3 linked regions of the Homo sapiens genome follow. The protein of the gene in region 1 purifies or fractionates together with the protein of each later gene. This does not show direct contact. Each region holds a gene or a part of one and is shown in the gene's direction. Other genes may lie near its edges.

Region 1 (8,434 bases):
TTCATTTGTTACAGACATGTGGGTTTAGTAATTATTATTCTCACACTTTCTAAAATGTTTTTAGCTTTTTAAAAAGCATTTTGCTCATTTTTTTATTTCCTTCTGTTTGTTTCATTCTATTTATTAAATTCTCCCATTTATCCCAATTGTTTGGGAAGTCTCATGGCTCTTTATGGTTCTCTTCTGAGAGGAATATGAAATACTTCAATTGATTTGTTCCTTATTGCAAATAAGCCAAAGCCATGGCTCATTTACCATTACCGGGTTTGTTTACCATTTCACAGGCACACTTGAGGCCTCAGCTTTCAAGGGCATGTTTTCAGCCTGTTACAAACCATGCTTGGCCTTCCTTCTCTAAAGTCTGCTCCTTCCTAACCAGGAAACAGGGCAGGAATGGAATTTTCTTCCCATTCCAGTTTCTCTTTAGCTGCTTGTGTCCAGAAGTTGATATGGCATAGCTAAAATTAATACCTGAATTGACCCAGTTCACCTTCTGTTTTAGAAACAACAACAACAAAAAAATTGGCTAAAAAGTAAAGGCCTGGGTATTTTTAGAAAGAGCAATAATTAGTGTAAAATGTCACAGAAATATAATACGTTTAGATTCATGTCAGACAAAAGTTATTTCCAGGAAGCTTCTCAAAGACAAGAAAAGGGATGTTGGAGATATTGGGAAAAAGTATAGTGAAATTGGTAAGAATAAATAAGCTGCAGTGAAGCCTATCTGAAGCATTTGGAATATGACTTTGCAAGAGGCTCAGAATAGAATAGAGTAGGAATCTATCCCTGTTTATCTTTTTACCTCCCTATCCGTCTTGTATAGATATTGGAGTAAAAAGATGAGGAATGTTGCCTCTTGTTCCTCTCTCTGTGACTCACAACAGTGATGCTAAAGTGAGGAAGTGGCTTCAGACATGAACAGAGGTGGGGGATGGGAAAAACGGTCAGTATTAAGAGGCATGTGGCATGTGTGAAGATTTAGGAATTTAAAACACACACACACATGGTGGAAGCTGGTAAGCCTTGCCTTTTATACACAGTTCTGAATTTTAACTCTGAGGAGAGGAGTTTTTTGGGGTATAATTCTCTGTCGTAAGAGGCTGCCCTATGTGTTGTAGGATGTTTAGCAGCATCTCCAGCCTCAACCCACTCGATGCCAGTAGTATCCAGTTGTGACAGCTAAAAATGTCTCCAGATATTGCCAACAGTTGTCCCAGGATGAGAACCACTGCTGCAAAGGTCACACGATGTGGTTGGGCAGGGTGAGTATGGGACCTTGAGCTGGGGTAAGACCTGAGGGGCAGAGTTGTGAGAGTTATGGGGAACGTTTCCAATTTCTTCTATGGAGAAATGGGAAGAGATGGTGGATGAAGGAAATGGAGTGGCATGGTGGGAATGGAGTATGTAAATTCCTAAAAGAGAAGGAAAGAATCCTAAAGGCTGAAATAATTTTTTAAGACAGTAGATAAAAAGTCATGTAGCATTTAAGGAGACTTATTTTTTCTAGAAGGTTGATTTATATGTTTATTGAGAGGGAAGGAAAGTTAGTTAATCAGAAAAGAAGGGGGAGGTGGGGATGGTAAATGAGTTAAAAAAAAAAAAAAGTTAAATAATGAATAGGACTGGCCAGGCGTGGTGGCTCATGCCTGTAATCCCAGCACTTTGGGAGGCCGAGGCAGGCGGATCACAAGGTCAGGAGTTCGAGACCAGTGTGTCCAATATGGTGAAACCCCATCTCTATTAAAAATACAAAAATTAGCCTGGCATGGTAGCGGGAGCCTGTAGTCCCAGCTACTCGGGAGGCTGAGGCAGGAGAATCACTTGAACCCAGGAAGCAGAGGTTACAATGAGCCGAGATCGCACGACTGCACTCCAGCCTGAGCAACAGAGCAAGACACACACACACACAAAAAAAAACACAAAACACAAAAAACGAATAGGACCTACTATTTGATAGCACAACGGGGTGATCATGGTCAATAGTAACTTAATTGTATGTTTTAAAATAACTTAAAGAGTGTAATTGGATTGTTTGTAACTCAAAGGATAAATGGTTAAGGGAATGGATACCCCATTTACCCTGATGTGCTTATTTCACATTACATGCCTGTATCAAAACATCTCGTGTACCCCATAAATATATACACCTACTATATATCCACGGGAATTAAAAATTGAAAAAAAGAAGTGGAAATAGATTGAAAGCTCTCCCTGTAGAGTAGAAGTTGGATAGATTTTGCAGAAATAACCTTAATCCCTTATTCCTCTCAGTGAAGGAGCCTATGAAATAAAGGAGAATTAAACATGTAGTTCTTATAATTTTCATTCCTTCATTCACTTATCTATATCCTATGTCCCATGTACTATATTATACACTAGACAGTAAGGATAGAAAGATGGATAAGAAACAATCCCTGTCTAAAGATGTCCACAGTATACTAGGGTAGACAAAGATGTGTAATCAGTTTGATTGAGAATCTCACCTCAAGAGGCATAAGCTTGAAAGTCTCATCATTTCTACACTTGGTATTTTGTCAGATTTCATTGCTTCAAAGTATCAGCCTCCTTAGTTATTAAAACTTTCATTCTAGGTATTAAGATTAGGTCCTACTGATTTAAAATATTAGTCTCATATTTATTTCAAAAACTTCCTCCATGCCTTCCAGAGCAGACTAGACCCGTAGTTCCAACTTTCTTTATACACACCCCTTTTTTTCCATGTGCCTGCTCTTCCGATGGTGGGGTCAGGAGGTTTAAGAAGGAAAACAGGCAATGCCTTAAATGTCTGACTGCCGCCATGTTGCTATCTGCTTTCTGTAGGTCATTGTTAGAATATATGGGGTTCCTAACAGCCCCACTGATAACTCAGTATCAAGCAGTCCTCTATGCTTTGATAGCCCTTTGCAAGACTTCTGCATCTGTCAGCTGACTTCCATTTGGCAGTGGTGAAACACATTCTTCTGATACATAGAAATCCCTTGTCCCATGTTATGTTCCATGGCAAGTGTGTGGGCCTCAATCTCCTGTGCTCTCTGTGATCCCAGCTCTGGGGCCTGTAGATTCCGACAGGATCCATAGTCCAGATATCACCGGATTTCTCTGTAGTCCCTACCAACTCTCCCCAGTCCTCCAAAATTCCTGGAAATTCATAGCGTAAGGGGAGTCAGCAAGCTTTGTGGCAAAGGAAACATCCAGATGGGGACTGGAGATATCAGCCTCCTCTTGAAGACACCCCAAAACTTTACTAGTATCATGTAATAGGTACTAATGTCCTGAACAGAACATGAAAGACACTAACCATTAATGAAACAAATGGACAATTTGGATAAATTCATAATTTATTTACTTATTTTTCTTTCTTTTTGAGACAGGGTCTTATTCTGTCTCCCAGCTGGGCTGGAGTGCAGTGGGGTGATCACTGCAGCCTCAACTTTCAGGGCTCAGGTGATTTTCCCTCCAAGACTCCTAGGCTCAAGTGATTTTCCCTCCCAGTCTCCTGAGTAGCTGGGTCTACAGGTGTGCACCATACCCCGCTAATTTTTGTATTTTATTTATTTATTTATTTTTTGAGACAGAGTCTTGCTCTGTTGCCCAGGCTAGAATGCAGTGGCGCGATCTCGGCTCACTGCAAGCTCCGCCTCCCGGGTTCACGCCATTCTCTTGCCTCAGCCTCCAGAGTAGCTGGGTCTACAGGCGCCCGCCACGATGCCCGGCTAATTTTTTTAATTGTTGGTAGAGACGGGGTTTCACCGTGTTAGCCGGGATGGTCTCAATCTCTTGACCTCGTGATCCGCCTGCCTGCGCCTCCCAAAGTGCTGGGATTACAGGCGTGAGCCACTGCGCCCGGCCTAATCTTTGTATTTTTTTAGAGACAAAGTTTCACCATGCCGCCCAGGCTGGTCTCTAACTGTATTTTAAAAATACAGGCGGCCGGGCGCAGTGGCTCACGCTTGTAATCCCGGAACTTTAGGAGGCTGAGGCGGGCCGATCATGAGGTCAGCAGATCGAGACCATCTGGCTAACACGGTGAAACCCTGTCTCTACTAAAAATACAAAAAAAATTAGCCAGGCGTGGTGGCGGGCGCCTGTAGTCCCAGCCACTTGGGAGGCTGAGGCAGGAGAATGGCGTGAACGTGGGAGGCAGAGCTTGCAGTGAACCGAGATCGCGCCACTGTACTCCAGCCTGGCCGACAGAGCGAGACTCCGTCTTAAAATAAAAAATAAAAAAATAAGAAATACAGGCAGGGCGCGTGGGCTCATGCTTGTAATCCCAGCACTTTGGGAGGCTGAGGCGGACAGGCTGCTTGAGCTCAAGAGTTCCAGACTAGCATCGGCAAAGCAGGGAGACCCCATCTTTACAAAAAAAGTAGCCTGGCATGGTGTTGTGAGCCCATAGTCCCAGCTAAGTAGGGCAGAGGTAGGAGAATCACTTGAGCCCAGGAGTTCCAGGCTGCAGTGAGCCGTGGTCGTGCCACTGGACTCCAGCCTGGGTGAAAGAGCAAGACCCTGTCTCAAAAAGAGAAAGGAAAAAATTTAACATCAAGAACTTCCTTTCATCAAGACACCACTGAGAGAATACGACAACCCACAGAGTAGGAAAAGAGATTTGTAATACACATCTGTAACAATGGACTTCCTCCTAGAATAGAGAGGATAAAAAGTAGCAACACTTCCGCTTGCACCCGGACGGAACTTCCTGTCACGGAAAAGAACATCCTGTCACGGAGAAGAACATCCTGCAGAATTTCCTGTCACGAGGAACATTCCGCAGGAGGAAATGGAGGCTGAAAGGCTGCGACTCCTCGAGGAAGAGGCCAAGCTGAAAAAGGTAGCCAGAATGGGATTTAATGCATCTTCCATGCTCCGAAAAAGCCAGCTAGGTTTCCTCAACGTCACCAGTTACTCCCGTTTAGCCAACGAGCTGCGTGTGAGCTGCATGGAGCGGAAAAAGGTCCAAATTCGGAGCTTGGATCCCTCCTCTTTGGCGAGCGACCGATTTAACTTCATTCTGGCGAGTACCAACAGCGACCAGCTCTTCGTAGTGAACCAGGTCGAAGTCGAAGGCTCCAAGTACGGCATCATCAGCCTGCGAACTCTGAAGATCCCTTCGTTCCACGTGTACGTGCTCAGAAACCTCTACGTCCCCAACCGGAAGGTGAAGTCCCTGTGCTGGGCCTCGCTGAACCAGTTGGACTCTCACGTTCTGCTGTGCTTCGAGGGAATCACAGATGCTCCAAGCTGTGCAGTGCTGCTCCCAGCGTCGCGGTTCTTAAGTGTTCACACAAGAGTTAACCAGCCTGGCATGCTCTGCAGTTTCCAGATCCCAGAGGCCTGGTCCTGTGCGTGGTCCCTCAACACCCGGGCATATCACTGCTTTAGTGCAGGCTTGTCTCAGCAGGTCCTGTTGACCAGCGTGGCGACGGGACACCAGCAGTCATTTGATACCAGCAGTGATGTCTTGGCCCAGCAGTTTGCTAGTACGGCTCCTTTGCTGTTTAATGGCTGTCGCTCCGGGGAGATCTTTGCCATTGATCTGCGTTGTAGAAATCGAGGCAAGGGGTGGAGGGCCACTCGCCTGTTCCATGACTCAGCAGTGACCTCTGTGCAAATCCTCCAAGAAGAGCAATGCCTGATGGCATCAGACATGACTGGAAAGATCAAGCTGTGGGATCTGAGGGCCACTAAATGTGTAAGGCAGTACGAAGGTCACGTGAATGAGTCCGCCTATCTGCCCCTGCATGTGCACGAGGAAGAGGGAATCGTGGTGGCAGTGGGCCAGGACTGCTACACGAGAATCTGGAGCCTCCATGATGCCCACCTGCTCAGAACCATCCCTTCCCCGTACTCTGCCTCCGAGGACGACATTCCCAGCGTGGCCTTCGCTTCTCGGCTCGGGGGCATCCGGGGAGCAGCACCAGGGCTGCTCATGGCTGTCCGGCAGGACCTTTATTGTTTCCCCTTCAGCTAATTCTGCAGGTGGCAGCGCGGCCGAATGTGGATTTGACTTAAGGAAGTTAAGAGTATCTTATTACCGTTTCTGTGAGAGCATTTTAAGAGACGTGTTGTATATAGATCGCATCCATCCGGCTGCCAGGGGTAAGGTGTTAAGAGTTTTATGTGGAGACGTTCTTGTAAAGTTATTTCAGTTAAACTGTGGACTTAACTTGAAAGTCCTTTTCATAAAAGGTACCTGTTTCCTCTTGTTGAATGCCTTAGAACAGTTAACCACCTCCCCAACCCTTTTTTTTTTTAAATAATTAAGACTTTTCTAAGGACTGAAGATTGGCAAAAACTAAAATAAATTAAAGCAGCTTCTTTCACTAGTAGCCCTTTAGAGAAGCATAATGATGGTACTGGTAAGACTGTTTGACTAATCATACAGGGTCCCAGGCATCTGCGCTTGAGGAAGCCAGTGGGAGTGGAGACAAGGGAGAGGTAATTTCTCAGAGTCTCTACAGAAATATTTAAGGCTGGAGTTTGGAATCATTAAATTTGGCCTTCTCAAACTCAATAGCAGATCTCTTAAGGTTCTCCTTTTATTGTTATCATCCATAGGCATTGGAAGGAAAGATGGATCTTTTTAAATACTAGAAGTTTTAAACAGTCCTTGATGTGCTTTTGTTGAGGTACCTTTCAGAATGTAAGGTACAGCAGCTCCGGTTTCTATTATGGTGACTTGAAGTTCAGATTCAAGGAATTGGCTTTGACTTTTTGTAATCTAGGAGCAGCAGTTTGTGAGAGATTTATTAAAAATGTTAAAGAGCCTGTTTTTCTACTAAGCAAGGAAGAAAAAAAACGTGTAATAAGGTTAGTTGCTACTTCTTAATAGCCAAAGCCTGGAAATGATCTGAATTTCGAAAATGCTAAAATTCGTGATATAATCATACAATCGGATACTGCATAATAATAGAAAATAAGGCACACTTGCTATGTGAAACAGTATGGACCAATCTCAACATGTTGACTGAAATTAGGTAGAAATGAGTACAAACTGTATGATTCAATTCTAAAGTTCAAAAGCAGTAAAAACTTGTCTATGGTGATTAAAGGTAGAGTAGTACGTACCTCTGTAGAAAGAAAGGATTTTTTTTTCTTTTTCTTTTTAGGATGTTTGAGAAGTGACATGGGGAAGCTTTAGGAATGCTGAGTTTTCTTTATCTTGACACTTGATACATACGTAATTCATATATCTATATGCTTCACGTTTTTATAGTTTACTGTATATATGTTATTCCTCAAAAAATAAAAATAAGCAATTAGGACACTATTGTAGTTAGGCAAGGGACAATGATGCCTTGGACCTGCATGTGTGAGAAGTAGAAATGATCAGAAATGATTGCATTGGAAGATCATTCGAAGGTAGTATTATTGATAAGGCTTGCTGATGAGAGTAAACTAGAAAGTGAAAGAAAAAAGGATGGCAGCTTTTTTTTTTTTTTTTTTGAGACGGAGTCTCCTTCTGTCGCCCAGGCTGGAGTGCAGTGGCGCGATCTCGGCTCACTGCAAGCTCTGAGGATGGCAGCTTTTTTGTTAACTTTAGAACTGGTAGATGATGGTGTCGTTTACTAACCTGGGGAGGATGAGGAGAAAAAACTTTAGGTGAAGGGAATGATGCTGAGTTTTAGACATCTACTAAACCTCCAATTGGAGATACAAAGTATTCTGCAGATCAGGGGTCATGTCATGGCTGGTAATACAAATTTGGTGACTTCAATACATAGAATTAAAATAGATGGGATAGATGTGCTTTATATGACATAGATGAGGTTAATGTAATTACATATTGATAGAAGATGAGTAGATCAATAGAGAAGATATGGGAGTATGGTTAGGCACAGATTTTTGGAATCCTTTCAGTCAGTTTTTTATACTAACTTGATATGTGACATGAGAAATTGTGTAAGCTTTACTTGCTGTTGTTTCTTCAGTGTAAAATGTCTTAGATAATAAAACTAAATGATAAAGTAGATACAGGGTTAAAGGATATGTATCTTGTCCCTTTTACATTGTAAGCATTCAAAATAAAACAAAACAATTAATGAAGAAAAGACATTGCAATCATTCAGTAAGAACTAGCTGCAGACATATATATGTATATATATATATGTCTGATACTGATATGTCATTTATTTGGCAATTGACAAAAAATGACTACATAACTTGATAAACTGTTTATCCTCATTTGCAAAGAAAACAAATGCAAAAAAAAAATCAGTAAGAAAAACACACCTAAAAGAAAGGGAGGCAATAGTCTTGAATAGGAGAAAAAGAGGAGATCCAAATGGCTAATATACATTTGAAAAGGCATCCAACTTCTTTTATTGTCAAGGAAATGCAAATTAAAACCACAATGCCACACCACTTTCACTATAATGGTTAAAATAAAATAGATCAGGTGGAGTGACGTTGGGAATTAAAAGAGAAGCAAATGTTG
Region 2 (7,839 bases), on another chromosome or scaffold:
AATCTTGCTTAATCTGAGGTCACAAAGTTTTCTCTTATACTTTCTTCCAGACATTTTAGAGTTTTAGGTTTTACATCTAGGTCTACGATCTATGTAGAGTGAATTTTTGTATATATTGTGAAATACAAATCTAGAGTCAGAGTCGGGTGCAGTGGCTCATGCCTGTAATCCCAGCACTTTGGGAGGCCAAGGTGGGTAGATCGCCTGAGCGTCAGGATTTTGAGACCAGCCTGGCCAACATGGTGAAACCCCATCTCTACTAAAAGTACAAAAAATTAGCCGGGCGTGGTGGCAGGCACCTGTAATCCCAGCTACTTGGGAGGCTGAGGCCGGAGAATCGCTTGAACCCGGGAGGCGGAGGTTGCAGTGAGCCGAGGTTGTGCCACTGTACTCCAGCCTGAGCAACAGAGTGAGACTCCATTTCAAAAAAATACAAAGAAAAGTCTAGAGTCAGTGTTTTCCCTGCAAATGTCCAGTTTTTCAGTCTCTTTTCCCCTACTGAATTGCCTTTGCTCCTTTGTCAAAAACCACGTAGGAGTAGGAGGAGTGAGTTGTGAAATCAGGGTGTGTTGGCCCCCCAGCTTCATACATTTGCACAGGTTTCTGGCTATTCTTGGTCCCTTGTGTTTCCATGTGAATTTTAGAATCGGCCAATTTGTATAAGAAAGTGTGCTAAGATTTTGATTGACGGTATATAGAATCTACAGATCAATGTAGGAGAATTAAATTCTTAACAGTATTGAGAGTCTGGGCTCAGTGGCTCACACCTGTAATCCCAGCACTTTGGGGGGCTGAGGTGGCCTGATCGCTTGAGCCCAGGAGTTCGAGACCAGCCTAGGCAACATGGTGAAACCCCATCTCTACAAAAAATTTAAAAATTAGCCTAGTGGGGTGTTGCATGCCTGTAGTCCCAGCTACTCAGGGCCCCCACACCACAACCTGGAAGCTCTTCACACAGGAAGCTGAGCAGTTGGGGCCTGTTTGTCTCCCATCTTTCTGAGATTCACTGTCTTTCATAGCCCAGTACTCAGTGCTTCGAAAACTGTTGCTTCGTATATTTTGCCTGATTTTGTGGTTATTTCAGGCAGAAAGTTAATACAGTTCTTGTACTGTGTCTTGACTAGAAACGAGTCCCACCTGAACTCTCAGAGGTCTTTGGTTTAATAAAATATGATACCTTACAGCTAAAGCTTCTTACTACTCTTTTCCTGGAGATTTGGCTGTCTGATATCTGCTGCCTCATTATTTTTACTTAAAAAGGCGGAATTACTTTGCAACACCTTGTACACAGTGATATGTCTTATAAAACAATCACTAGATATTATGAACAATGTTTGTAGGTGCCTTAGGTGTCTGTCTTGAAACCCTGAGAACTAGGAGTGCTTACCCCAAAATGACAGTCACTGGTTCCTCCTTGGAATGAGACATCGCAAATTCCAGGGGCATCTCTGGAGGTGCTGCCCCACCAGGGGATATGTGGAATCAGTTGATTCACTTACTTGTGATCATCTCTCCACGCACAGGTGGGCTTCTGGCCTCTCACAGAGTCTGAAGCATGAGCTGCCTCAGATCTATTGGAAGCAAATGGGATAGAAATCTAAGAAAAGCAAATGTGAAATTACTGATGTCTGATCAAGCAGGCAATACATTTGACTTGGTGTTTCAAAATAAAGTCTCAGTTTTTGTATAGGTGGGGTGGTGTATACTTTGCCAAAGAATCTTATGTGAAAGGACCAATTCTCACCCAAGTTTGAAAGGTTTGGTTTCGTGTTTGGTTTTTGGTTTTGCTCACTCTCCCTCTACGTCTAAACACCTTAGGAGTCCTGTCACTTACACTTTTTGGGCCTCAGCTGGCCTGTTGTTTCTGTTTGTTACTTTGTTTTTATCATTTTCCTCCTGTAGTGTGTAGAGGAGAATGTTGTGAAGGCATGGATCTTTTCCATTGAACGACCTGAATTTCGGTCTGTAATAACTAACTCCTGAAGAAAGTGCATCTTCTGTGTCTTGTGTCTCTATGTTTTAGTCCTGCTTGTTGCTAAATGAGACAACAGAAAACTGAAGACTGCATTTCTAGAAAGGTTTCAGAGAAAGGCTGTGTTTTGATTTAGAACTGGTTTTTTTGTTTTTTGTTGCACAAAAACAAACCTCTCAGGCCCTTTAAAAAAAAAGAGAGAGAGAGGTGTGGCCTCCCTATGTTGTCCAGGCTCCTTGGGAACTCCTGGACTCAAACAGTCCTCCTGCCTTGGCCTCCCGAAGTGCTGGGATTCCAGGCGTGAGCCATTGCACCCGGCTGACATGCAAGTTCTGAGGAAAGCCAGGCTGTCTTTCTTGAGTCACGGAGTAGTTGTCTTCATGACATGTTGATACCAGGTGATAATGGTCAGTGAAAGAGAGAGGTTAGTCCTTTGTATTAGGTGGCATCCTTCCCTCACACCCAAGCTGCAGGCCCAGCGTAGGAATGGGACCTCCACAGCCACACAGGTCTCATCCTGTGTGGCTGTGAAGGTCGCTATATGACTCTGGAGGTAGCTATGTGACTATGGAGGTCTCGTCCCGTGTGGCTGTGGAGGTCGCTGTGTGACTGTGGAGGTCACGTCCCATGTGGCTGTGGACATCTTGTCTGTGTGGCTGTGGAGGTTGCTGTGTGACTATGGAGGTCTCGTCCTTTGTGGCTGTGGACGTCTTGTCTATGTGACTGTGGAGGTTGCTGTGTGACTGTGGAGGTCGCGTCCCGTGTGGCTGTGGAGGTCACTGTGTGACCATGGAAGTCGCGTTCCGTGTGGCTGTGGAGGTCGCTGTGTGACTATGGAGGTCTCTCTCGTCCGTGTGGCTATGGAGGTCTGTGTGGGAGTATGGAGGTCACATCCCGTGTGGCTGTGGAGGTCGCTGTGTGACTGTGGAGGTTGCTGTGTGACTATGGAGGTCGCTATGTGACTATGGAGGTCGCTGTGTGACTATGGAGGTCTCATCCATGTGGCTGTGGAGGTCTCTGTGACCATGGAGGTCACGTCGCATGTGGCCGTGGAGGTCGCTGTGTGACTATGGAGGTCACGTCCCATGTGGCTGTGGAGGTCGCTGTGTGACCATGGAGGTTACTGTGTGCCTATGGAGGTCGCTATGTGACTATGGAGGTTGTTGTGTGACTATGGAGGTCTCGTCCATGTGGCTGTGGAGGTCTCTTTGTGACTATGGAGGTCACGTCCCATGTGGCCGTGGAGGTCTCTGCGTGACTGTGGAGGTCACGTCCCGTGTGGCTGTGGAGATCTCTGTGTGACTATGGAGGTTTCATCCATGTGGCTCTGAAGGTCTCTGTGTGACTATGGAGGTCGCGTCCCATGTGGCTGTGGAGGTCGCTGTGTGGCTATGGAGGTCGCGTCCCGTGTGGCTGTAGAGGTCGCTGTGTGACTATGGAGGTCTCGTCTGTGTGGCTGTGGAGGTCGCTGTGTGACTATGGAGGTCGCGTCCCATGTGGCTGTGGAGGTCGCTGTGTGACTATGGAGGTCTCGTCCGTGTGGCTGTGGAGGTCGCGTGTGTGACTATGGAGGTCTCGTCCATGTGGCTGTGGCGGTCTCTGTGTGACTATGGAGGTCTCGTCTGTGTGGCTGTGGAGGTCTTTGGGTGACTATGGTGGTCACGTCCCATGGTCCCATGTGGCTGTGGAGGTCGTGTGTGACTATGGAGGTCTCGTCCACGTGGCTGTGGAGGTCTTTGTGTGACTATGGAGGTCACGTCCCATGTGGCTGTGGAGGTCGCTGTGTGACTATGGAGGTCTCATCTGTGTGGCTGTGGAGGTCTTTGTGTGACTATGGAGGTCACGTCCCATGTGGCTGTGGAGGTCTCTGTGTGACTATGGAGGTCATGTCCCACAGCTCCATGGCCTTCCTTGTTCTGTCTTCCACATCTGAGAGCAGGGATTGCCCTTATCCGCAGTGAGCATTTTGTTTAAGTAGCAGTGAGTTCACTCCAGGCAATGCTTTGACACTATAAATAGACGTGTATTTGACATTCACACACGTGTCTGTTGAGCTAATACAGACAATCATTTGATGAACCTGCTAGTTAGGAAGTAGCTGTGATGTGAGAAGAGACAGTGCTGGCTGTAGATATACACCAAATTTCCTCACTTGGCTGTTGATACAAGGAAAGCATCTTGATACTAATAGGAGTAGAATGCAAATGATACTTCTCTACCTCCGATCATTGGATTACATTCCTTTTCTCTGGGGTGAATCTTTAAAATGCTAATGGCCTGAGTGCACCAACATGAAGCACACAGTACCATCTGATTAGTTGCTTTATGCATCCAGAGAGGGTATTTCTAAATCTCAAAGTATGATTGAGTGTCAAAAATCCATTTGGGGGAGGGGCAACTCCTGTGTTGTGCTGCTTCTATAACAGCACAAAAAAGTCTTCCAGTATGTTCCTGCCAGCAAGGAGTTGGCAGGGCGGGGAGAAACAAAGGCTGTCGCCTTTCCAGTGATGAGTGCCTGTAATATGAAGCCGGGAGTCCTGACTCAGCACCTACAGCAAACCTGGGTTACCCAGGGCTTGCCACTTGTTTTGAGAGGTTCTTAAATTCTTAATTTTAAAAACAAAGTAAATTGCAGTATGACTCATATGAATAGTAAATGTGCACCAAATAGGACACATAGGAGGCAGAGTGGGTTATAAAATATTTAGTCATTTGCCACAACCAGGAAAAGATGGTTTTAAGGATATTGGTTCTTGGTCTAGGAATTAAAACATCCAGAAAATGGTCCTAAGTTACTGTTGATTTTTGCTGAAGAAAATACATTTTCTTCATGTGTTATATAAAAAACTTACTTTGTAATAATTATGTTTGTGGGATTCACTAATGTTTAACTACTGGAGCAAAACCTTTGTCGTAAAGTTCTCTTGGTTGTTTGAGGAGACAAAAGGATGGCAGATCTTTGACCAAATTATGAAGATATGGAATTCAAAGGGATGGAATTGAAGAGTTTGAGAAAGGAGTTAAAGTAAATACAGAATGTGGGTAGGAATTCCGTTTCTATAGTAAGACAAAATGTAGGGGGAAAGTTTGTATTTCTTTGTTATTATGCTGATAATAAGCTTGCTAGAAAACAGGATTATAATTAAAAACAGGATTATAATTATTCCACATCCTCTTTTGATCTTTGTAAATATGCATGTATTTTATATGGTAGTAATCACTGTATGTATTTAACTTTGGTTAATATGTAGCAGCTCTCCGATATTTAGTATTGGAATTATTAATACTTGTGTAAGTATTAGTAAAATGAATAGCTTTATAACTTTAATTTACCTTTTTTCCTAGGGGTATATTGTATCCTAATTAAATTCAGATTATTTATCTAAAGTGTTTTTATTCTGTATATCCCCACATTTTTCGAACCCCACATTGGTTCAAAACTTGTTAGAAAAACCATATTTCTGTTTATAATATTTCATATTGGAATTGAATGAGTTTAAGTTTTTGTACCTAAGATTGGAAAGGAAATTTTATTAGAACTGGTAAGAATGTACAAGCATTGTTTCTTTGAGGTGAGTAAAAATATTGTGAGAAAAAATTTTCTGCTTCAAAAAATGGTGTCAGCTGGGCACGGTGGCTCATGCCTGTAATCCCAGCACTGTGGGAGGCCGAGGCGGACAAATCACCTGAGGTCAGGCGTTTGAGACCGGCCTGGCCAACATGGCGAAACCCCTCCTCTACTGAAAATACAAAAATTAACCTGTGCGTGGTGGCAGGTGCCTATAATCCCAGCTACTCGGGAGGCTGAGGCAGGAGAATCGCTTGAACCCGGGAGGTGGAGGTTGCAGTGAGCCAAGATCCTGCCTTTGCACTCCAGCCTGGGTGACAGAGCAAGACTCCAACTCAAAAAAAAAAGATTTCTTCTTGTATTAGGGGTGTTCACAGAATAAAAAAGAAAGTTTATTAATTAAACAAACTGAAGTGAATTACACATCTAGCCTGCAGAAAAATAAATAGGAAACAATACAGTCTGGCCTGTGTCACCCAGAAAAAGCTCAGTTTGGATTGAATCACTGCCCTGGGGAGTGTGAGGGGAAGGCCCAGCCTGTTGTTCTCCTTCCTGATGGGAAGGTGGTCACTGAGGGAAAAGATTTTCTTGGTTCTCTAGCCCTGATTTCACTTTGTAATCATCAAGGTGAACTTAAACACAAACACACTCCAGTGACCCCCATCTCAGACTGAGGAATCGGAGCACCCGGAAACAGGCCTGTGAGGATCAAACCTGTTGAGAAGTCCCAAGTGACTGGGCACCATAGATGCTCAGGAGTGGTGCAGGCCAGCTGCCTGGGACCCGAGGTCCAGCAGGTGCAATGTGCCCACATTAACTGTTGTTACCTCTACCCCCATGCCAACTATGACTGGACTGCAGTGTTCCAACGAGAAGTGCCCTAAACTTAGCCATAATAAGTAATTTATTTGTAGATTCCTGAAGTACTGGGGTAGGGTGTGGGGTGCCTTTTTCTTATGATTACAGCTATGTTAACAATAGGGTTTTTTTATGAACCAATCTGTTGTTCATACTGAAGAATTGATGTAGCCCTTTTGTTTGCAGGCTGTGGAAAATCTCTGTTCTCACAAAGTCTCCCCAATGCTCTACAAGCAACTGCGTCAGGCCTGTGAAGACCACGTCCAGGCACAGATCCTTCCGTTTAGAGAATATCCTTTTTTTGGTTCATAAAGTTTCTATTCATTATCTAAGTCTTTTAAAACTGAACATTATTATGATAAAGAGCTAATGAGTATCCTTAATATTAAAACAACAGCTTTTAAAGTTCTCTTTTATTTGATAGGTTTGTAAGCGAAATTTACCATTTAAATTATTTTGCTGATTTGAATTAAAGGGAAACCGTGTTCATTTATTGGGTATGGTTGAAGTATTTAGGAAATGTTCTGAAAAATGTCTTCAAGTTTGAGTATCCTTTATTCTAATAAACACCATCTGCATTGGCTTTCTGTGATAGGCAACAAAGTCCCATCGACTTGGCGACTTATGGAGACACCCACTTATCAGCGCACAGTTGTGTCTGTCAGGAGGCCAGGCAGGATTCAGTGGATTCTATGCTCAGTCTCACGGGCAGAGTCAAGGTGTCAGCCAGGTTGGGGCCTCACCTGAGGTCTTTGCTAGCACGGGCAGGCAGTTGGCGGAAGCCAGTTCCTGTGGTAGTGGGACTGAGGGCCCTGCCTTCTGTCCCGTGTTGCTTGGTGTCACTCTCAGCTCCACATGCACAGGTCCTTGCCTCTCCTCTCACAGCACGACTCTTTTCTGCTTCTAGACCAGCAGGAGAATCTGCCTGTCTGACCTGCTGAGATAGGGCCTTATATGATGTAACCCGTAACCCAGTCAAGGAATGATGACCTTCGTATTCACAGCCTCGTTCACAGTTGCGTGTGAGGCATCCTCCACGTGGGGACAGGGCAGGAGCATCTCAGAATTCTGCTGCCACACCAGCTGTGACTCAGACGTCTACAGGGGAGTCTCTGGGCTCCTTGGCATCCTATAGAAAATCCTTTAATCTGGACTCAATCTCATTCCCCAGCCTCCTCCCAGTACTGTAGCTGTCCATGTGTCTCATTGGGTAGGAATTAGAAAGTAGAGTTTATAATTGCAGAAAATCTACTTGTGGCTGTACTTTTCTAGGCCTCCGTTTCTTCATGTGTAAAATTAGGTGGTTTGTGTTTGCTTATTTCTAAGTGTTCTTCTAGTTCAAGGAAACTTCTGCTCCCCCATCTCCCTGATCTTGGGAAACTAAACCATTCTGAGTTCATTGGAAGGGTCCTCAGGGAATCTGCAGCAGTTGGTGCTGCTG
Region 3 (7,839 bases), on another chromosome or scaffold:
GTACTTGCCTAGTGCATTTTGTGTAGGTTTCATTTAAAGTCTTCTTAATAGTTGCCTTTTATTTTAAGGATGGTCAGTGTTTGCATGTAATTTCATAACAGGGAACTTCTTAAATAGGTTATTATGATATGAAATGTATGCAGTTTTAAGATCTCAGTGTGTGTTTTGATCTTCTTATAGTATATGCAGAATCAGAATGTTCCGGGAAATATTGAGTTAACTGTGAATATCCTGACAATGGGCTATTGGCCGACATATGTGCCTATGGAAGTTCATTTACCACCAGAGGTAAGAGTTACTGTTTAGAACTGAGTTATAGGCATAGAAATCATAGCATTTCCATTTTGCTTGTCATTTAAAAATAGATACTTAGAAAAAAATAGAGACCCAGGGTCTCGCTGTATTGCTCAGGCTGGTCTTGAACTCTTGGGCTCAAGTGATCCCCCCCGCCTCAGCCTTCCGAAGTGCTGGGATTACAGGTGTAAGTCACCAGGCTTGGCATGGATACTTTTAAAAGTGTATGTCAGTAAGCGCACCAACACCAAATACCAACTGCTTTAATGTTTTACTTTTGTACTTAGAAGTCCAGTTAAGCACATAGCTAATAATGCCAAATTTCTGGGTTCAGGGTCAATTTCCCTGGCTCTTCTTCCATCTTCCCAGGTTATACCCCTCACTCTACCTAGCTATTAAGAATTCTTGCACATATTTCACCCATAGGTGGGATTGCTAAATGATGGGTCCTTGATTAAATCTATCCTGACTCCTGGTAAACTGTCTAGTCCAGGACTGAAGCCCATAAAAGGGATTAAGGCTAGACAGATAGATATTGAGAATCCTCCATGGAGATGATTATGAAGGCCCAGGGAGTAGATTTCTCTCAAAGAGGAAGAAAAAACAGCAGAGGCAGAACTTTAGAAAAGGCTCACATTTGGCAGATGGTAGAAAGAGGAACCTGTGAAGGAAACCAATGCAGAAGCAACAGTGAAATAAAGGAAGCAGCATAGTGCAGAGGCACAAAAGCTGCTGCAGGTGAATGTTTCAAAAGAGGGGATGATTAAATGTTCAGAGAGAGCAAAAGGTATAAATCCTAATAAATCCCATTTGATTTGGTGGTTGGGAGATCATTGTTTTTCATCAAAGTGATTGGTGGACCTACTGGATATAGTCTTAAAATTTTCCAGAAACTATATCACATGAGGTAAGTATAAAAATGGTAAATGTGGTATTGGATACAGAGCTTAAATAAAGCCTTATTTTATTTACTTTAGATGGTAAAACTTCAGGAGATTTTCAAGACATTTTACCTAGGCAAACATAGTGGCAGGAAACTTCAGTGGCAGTCAACCCTAGGACACTGTGTGTTAAAAGCAGAATTTAAAGAGGTAAGTGGATGTTCCCAAAACTTTTAGTTTTCATCTTTATCTTTAATGTTTAGGTCATCCTTCTTAACTGAAAGTTTAGGCTATTGTTTTTTGTTTTCTTCTTTTTTTTTTTTTTTTTTTTTTTTGAGACAGAGTCTCACTCTGTCACCAGAGTGGAGTGCAGTGGCGCTATCTTGGCTCACCGCAACCTCTGCCTCCTGGGTTCAGGTGATTCTCCTGCCTCAGCCTCCCGAGTGGCTGGGACTACAGGCGTGCGCCACCATACCCAGCTAATTTTTTTTGTATTTTTAGTGGAGACGGGGTTTCACCATGTTGGCCAGGATGGTCTCTGTCTCTTGACCTTGTGATCCACGCGCCTCGGCCTCCTAAAGTGCTGGGATTACAGGTGTGAACCACCGCATCTGGCCAGTTTAAGCTGTTGTTTTATAATTGTATCCTAGATATCCGCATGATGACAGTGATAGTTTGTCATAGCTTTATGTATTTTTAAGTAATTTTAGGTGTGTGGTCTTTCCACGATTGATTTGGCCCTTCTGCAAAATGAAAAGCAGTGAACTTTCCCCCTACCCTTTCCTCACCTGTGGATGAAAACTGTACACTGCCACTTCCTATTTTTATTTATTTGTTTATTTTTAGAGATAGGGTCCCACTCTGTCACCCAGGCAGGAGTACAGTGGCACAATCATAGTTCACTGTAACCTCAAACTCATGGGCTCAAGCTATCCCCCTGCCTCCGCTTCCTAAAGTGCTGGGATTACAGGCATGAGCAACTACACTTAGTCTAACACTGCCACTTCTTGACAGAAATCTTGTTGCTGGGAGCTACGAATAGAGTGGGAGTTAAGGGAAACAGTGTGCAATATCTAATCTCAAAAAACTTTAGCTTTTCATGACTAATCTGAGCCAAACAAATCAAAAATACATTTGAAATAGTGATTTCTTGCTGCTTGTGATGAATATCTAGAATGACACATAAGGCTGATTAATTTTCATTACTGTATTCTATTTATAAGGCTTAAAAAAAAACTGTTAAAAGGTCAGCTAATCCTTCCCCCTATTTTAGGTAGGGTCACACCTAAACCTCACACTGAAATACTGTATTACCACGTCAAGTGGCTTTGCTGGATAATGCTAATCATGTTTCTAAATCCACTAATTGAAAAATGCTTTTCCTATAAGAGATGATTAATTTTTCATGTGTTTTTAAAAAAGTGATGACTAAACACTTTTATTTCTTCAACAGGGTAAAAAGGAACTCCAGGTCTCTCTTTTTCAAACACTGGTGCTGCTAATGTTTAATGAGGGAGAGGAGTTCAGTTTAGAAGAGATCAAGCAGGCAACTGGAATAGGTTTGTAGCAAACATTAATTGTTCACTATGTGCACACCACTATGTTAAGAGGTCTGGGGGACATATTTATAGGAATAATTCCTTGCCTCAGAACTGTTTTGAGTTTTTTTTTTCTTTTTTTTTAATGAGACAGGGTCTCACTCTGTCACCCAGGCTGGGGTCCAGTGGTACAATCATGGCTCAGGCTCAAGTGATTCTCCTGCCTCAGCCTGCCAAGCAGATGGGACTACAAGTGCATGCCACCGTGCCTGGCTAATTTTTAAAATTTTTTTTTGTAGAGACAGGGTCTCACTATGTTGCTTAGCCTGGTCTCAAACTCCTGGGCTCAAGGGGTCTTCCTGCCTCAGCCTCCCTAAGTACTGCAATTACAGGCATGAGCCCCTGCAGCCAGCCAGAACTCTTTTTTTTTCCCCTCAAGACGGAATCTTGCTCTGTCACCCAGGCTGGAGTGCAGTGGCGCGATCTCGGCTCACTGCAACCTCTGCCTCCTGTGTTCAAGCAATTCTCCTGCCTCTGCCTCCCGAGTAGCTGGGATTACAGGCGCCTGCCACCACACCTGGCTAATGTTTGTATTTTTAGTAGAGACGGGGTTTCACCATGTTGGCCAGGCTGGTCTCGAACTCCTGACCTCGTGATCCGCCTGCCTCGGCCTACCAAAGTGCTGGGATTACAGGTGTGAGCCACCGCGCCTGGCCAGAACTCTTTATATAACCATAGGGAAAGGGGGAAATGACACTTGAAATAATGTCAAAACCCATAAGTACTGGCTTGTGGTACTGACTATAAGTGTGGTAAGAGTGCAACAAAGCAAGAGATCACCGTGGACTGGCACAATTGGGAAAGCTGTCATGAAGCAAGTGGCATTTGAGCTGGGCCTTCAAGTTTTGGTCAGGGAGAAGGCATATACAGCAAGGGGAAATATTTTGAGATGAGGTTGGGAGGTAGGAATGGGCACAGTATAGGCCCATGAAGAGCTTAATTGTAGCATAGAATCATGAAGAATCATGAAGAGCTTAATTGTAACATAGAATAGTGAGTTAAAAAATTAGGTAAGATGAGTAGGGCCTGATTGTGGAGAACCTGATAAGTCTAGCAAATGAAACCTACACTGTAGTGTCTCAACTATGTGGCATGGTGGAAGTAATTATTTGGACCACTTACTGAAATCAATCTACAGGGCAACTGGAAGGATCAAGGGATTCCAGTTTAGATGCTATTGGGATGATTCAGGCATAAAGTAGAAGGGACTTAGACTAGAATGAGACCATGAAAATGGAGAAAACTCATCTCTGCGGAAGCAGCGGCTAGCTATTATGTTGAGGATGAAGGAGAAGGAAAAGTTAAAAGATGATTTTAGGGTTTCCCAACTGAGAAGGTTAGTGGTATCACCACTGACAATTGGAAAGAGGACACAGTTATATGGAGATGATGAATCAAATTTTGGACGTAACTACAGTTGATAGTAAAACAGCCAGGCGGAATTGCCCTTTAAACGTGCAACTGGAGAGAAGTGAAATGTCATTTTGGAATATTTGGTAGTTGCCCACATGGTATGATAATTGACGTCTTTAAAAGAGGACTAGGGGCCGGGCGTGGTGGCTCACATCTGTAATCCCAGCACTTTGGGAGGCCAAGGCGGGTGGATCACTTGAGCTCAGGAGTTTGAGACCAGCCTGGGCAACATGGTGAAACCCCGCCTCTATTTTTTTTAAAAAAGAAGAGGACTAGGAAAAAAGCCATTGGCTAGAACAAAGAAAAGTTGTTGGTGACCTTTGGGAAAAAATGAAATAGTTTTAATAGGGGGATGGAGTGGAAGCTAGATTGAGGTAGAATGTCGTAGTTGTTCATGCTGGTAACAAATAACTAAACCTCTGTTTCTTCTTCAGAGGATGGAGAGTTAAGGAGAACACTGCAGTCATTAGCCTGTGGCAAAGCTAGAGTTCTGGCGAAAAATCCAAAGGGCAAAGACATTGAAGATGGTGACAAGTTCATTTGTAATGATGATTTCAAACATAAACTTTTCAGGATAAAGATCAATCAAATCCAGATGAAAGAAACGGTATTTCTTTCACTTTCTCTTAGTCCTAACACACTGGAATTATACATGTTAATAATCAAAATATATAAAGATTTTTATACCTGTAATACTGCCAATACCATTAATATTTTTTGTGTCTATGTCCAGCTAAATATGTTTCCTGATTTGATTTTGGGTGTTTGGGAGAGTGGTTGTACAGGATTGAGATGATACTCAACATAGTTTCATATCTTACTTTGTTTATTTAGTATTCAATCTTTAGAATTTTTCCATGCCATTAAATAGCTTCGAAAAATGGCAGATGGCAGTGTAATATTTTTACATGGCTCTTATAGTTTGTTCAACCACTGTTCATTTTGGGGCAATTAAATTCATGACTTATTAGTATTATAAATAAGATTGCAAGAAACCTCTTTGAAACTAAATTTTAATCTCTGATATATGATAAATTTGTGGAAGTAGATTTTTTTGGGTTAAAGGGTATGAACATTTTAGGAGTCTTAGTACATAATGTCATATTGTGTTCCGGAAAGGCTGGACCAGTTTATACTCTGTCCAGCAGCATATGAGAGCCTGTCTTACTATGTCCCCCAGCACTAAAGATTATATTTTCTTTTGCCAACTTGCTTGGTGAAAAATCTGAATTGATTTATTCACTATTTATTTGATTAACAGTGAAGGTGGGCCAGGTACGGTGGTTCACACCTGTAATCCCAGTACCTTGGGAGGCCGAGGCGGGCAGATCACCTGAGGTCAGGAGTTCAAAACCAGCTTGGCCAACATGGCGATACCCTGTCTCTACTAAAAATACAAAAATCAGCTGGGCGTGGTGGTGCGTGCTTGTAGTCCCAGCTACTTGGGAGGCTGAGGCATGAGAATCACCTGAACCCGGGATGTGGAGGTTGCAGTGAGCTGAGATCGCGCCACTGCACTGCAGCCTGGGTGACAGTGAGACTCTGTTTAAAAAAAAGAAAAAAAAAACAAAAACAGGGAAGGTGAATATTTTGTTTGTTTTTGCCATTTGAATTTGTAAGAGACTTCCAACTGCAGCATCCTGAAACTGATGGTTTCAGTTCCAATAAGGTTTAATGCAATATTTGAAAAAAAAAAAATTTTTTTTTTGAGGTGGAGTCTCACTCTGTCACCCAGGCTGGAGTCAGTGGCACGATCTTGGCTCACTGCAGCCTCCGCCTTCCAGGTTCAAGCGATTATCCTGCCTCAGCCTCCTGAGTAGCTGGGACTACATGCGTGAGCGACCATGCCCGGCTAATTTTTGTATTTTAAGTAGAGATGGGTTTTCACCATATTGACCAGGCAGGTCTTGAACTCCTGACCTCATGATCCGCCCATCTCGGCCTCCCAAAGTGCTGGAATTATAGGTGTGAGCCACTGAGCCCGACTGAAAAAATTTTAATGTAGGACAGCGACCAGTATCTCCAAACAAGTTCCTGTCATTTTCACATACACATCAAAGACAGGATATTTTCTTAAAGGATTACCATGTCCTTACTTTTAAAACATTTATGCTGTACCAGGAAGAAACTGCTGCAAAAAGGCCAAACTGTTTTTTTGGTTTAATTACTAAAGATGAACATTTTTACTTTAGCATCAAGATTGGTAAACCGCCTCCTAAATACCTACATTTCTGTAAGTCTTGAAGGATTGTAAGCACTAATGGCATGCATGTCTGATTTATATATTACAAAATAAAAATTAATTTTCAAAGAGGTTGACTCTTAACTAGTTTGCTTAGCCAGTTAATACCATGCCTTGAGTCAGAGATCAGACAGAGTCACCTTATAGACAAGCTATTGTCATAGAGAAATCTGGTTAACAATCCATTGAAACTGATACACACATTTAGAAGATATATCAAAGACAGAGTAAAAAAACAAAATGGTAAATTCCACATCAGCTATCTCTACTTCTAGAAAAGCAATTCAAAGATGATGTTTTTCTATTAACTAATATTAGCATTACTTCATTGGTATAGGGCAATATAATCAGAACAGAAAGGAGTTATGTTTGTAGGATTTTTCTCTGTCAGCATCTATATTTATAAGACCCCATTTAGATAATTCAGTACCTTTAAAGCAATAACAATGTCATGTCCCTAAAATGCACAATTTATGTAAATAGTCAGGTTTTGCTTCTGGTATAATTCCTAGGTTTAAAACTTTTTTGTTAGGTTGAAGAACAAGCAAGCACTACAGAAAGAGTATTTCAAGACAGACAGTATCAAATTGATGCTGCAATTGTTCGAATTATGAAGATGAGAAAGACACTTAGCCACAATCTCCTTGTTTCAGAAGTGTACAACCAGTTGAAATTTCCAGTAAAGGTAGGTACTTCTGTGTTTTCCTATTGAGCGTGTTATAAATAAAAGAAAGTACATTAGATTTTCAGACACAAATCTTGCAAACATAAAGCGTCATGACCATTTAGAGAGAGAAAAGTTTTAATTTCCCATGTTGATGCATATGATTTCCAAAAAAAAAAACTTTGTTGGCATATGTGGGCAGCAGTGACAAAAGGGAAAAATAACAGAAAAGCCTGGATACCTGAAAGTTTAACTGCTAAATGAGTGTTTGAAATTTTCAAGTTTATTCACTATATTTCTTTTGAACTTCTTGGTTGGTTATTTACTTCTTTTCCTCTTGAAATACCATGGTATTTATTGAAATACCATGGTATTTGACAGATTTAGTTATTGTGGATTGAGTTAAATCTCCTGTTTAGTTAGCTTATATAAGAGATCATCTGTTAAAAACCATACAGATAACTAGTCATGATTAAGCATCTTTTTGAAAAGTGTAGTGATAGTTCTGGTAAACTGAAATTGGTCATTAAATGGAAACGTTCCATTGTGAATGACCAATAATAAAGTCACTTAATGTGATGTTGTACTGGCCTTTTTTCCAAGTTTTAGGAGGTAGATAGCCAAACCCTTGGATGATAAACATTGATAGAGTTTGAATAGACTGCTAGCTATTAGGGTTCTTATGAGCTTTGGACTTTCATAAATCACTTCACCATGCTGATCTTGTTTCCTCTTTTGTAAAACTGA

Evidence for each region. The genes of interacting proteins can lie anywhere in the genome.
Region 2: the proteins of DCAF4L1 (region 1) and CUL4A purify together in Homo sapiens (affinity purification with mass spectrometry; 5 studies listed by BioGRID and IntAct, with this or other methods). This does not show direct contact.
Region 3: the proteins of DCAF4L1 (region 1) and CUL4B purify together in Homo sapiens (affinity purification with mass spectrometry; 4 studies listed by BioGRID and IntAct, with this or other methods). This does not show direct contact.

What each region holds. Positions count from the first base shown.
Region 1 is NC_000004.12:41,977,016-41,985,449, forward strand, and holds the start of DCAF4L1 (DDB1- and CUL4-associated factor 4-like protein 1), read left to right. Parts: upstream 1-4,740; 5' UTR 4,741-4,777; coding exon 4,778-5,968; 3' UTR 5,969-8,434.
Region 2 is NC_000013.11:113,212,361-113,220,199, forward strand, and holds part of CUL4A (cullin-4A), read left to right. Parts: intron 1-6,584; coding exon 6,585-6,688; intron 6,689-7,839. UniProt on the Homo sapiens protein: Core component of multiple cullin-RING-based E3 ubiquitin-protein ligase complexes which mediate the ubiquitination of target proteins. As a scaffold protein may contribute to catalysis through positioning of the substrate and the ubiquitin-conjugating enzyme.
Region 3 is NC_000023.11:120,529,376-120,537,214, reverse strand, and holds part of CUL4B (cullin-4B), read left to right. Parts: intron 1-180; coding exon 181-288; intron 289-1,271; coding exon 1,272-1,385; intron 1,386-2,628; coding exon 2,629-2,734; intron 2,735-4,620; coding exon 4,621-4,793; intron 4,794-6,960; coding exon 6,961-7,113; intron 7,114-7,839.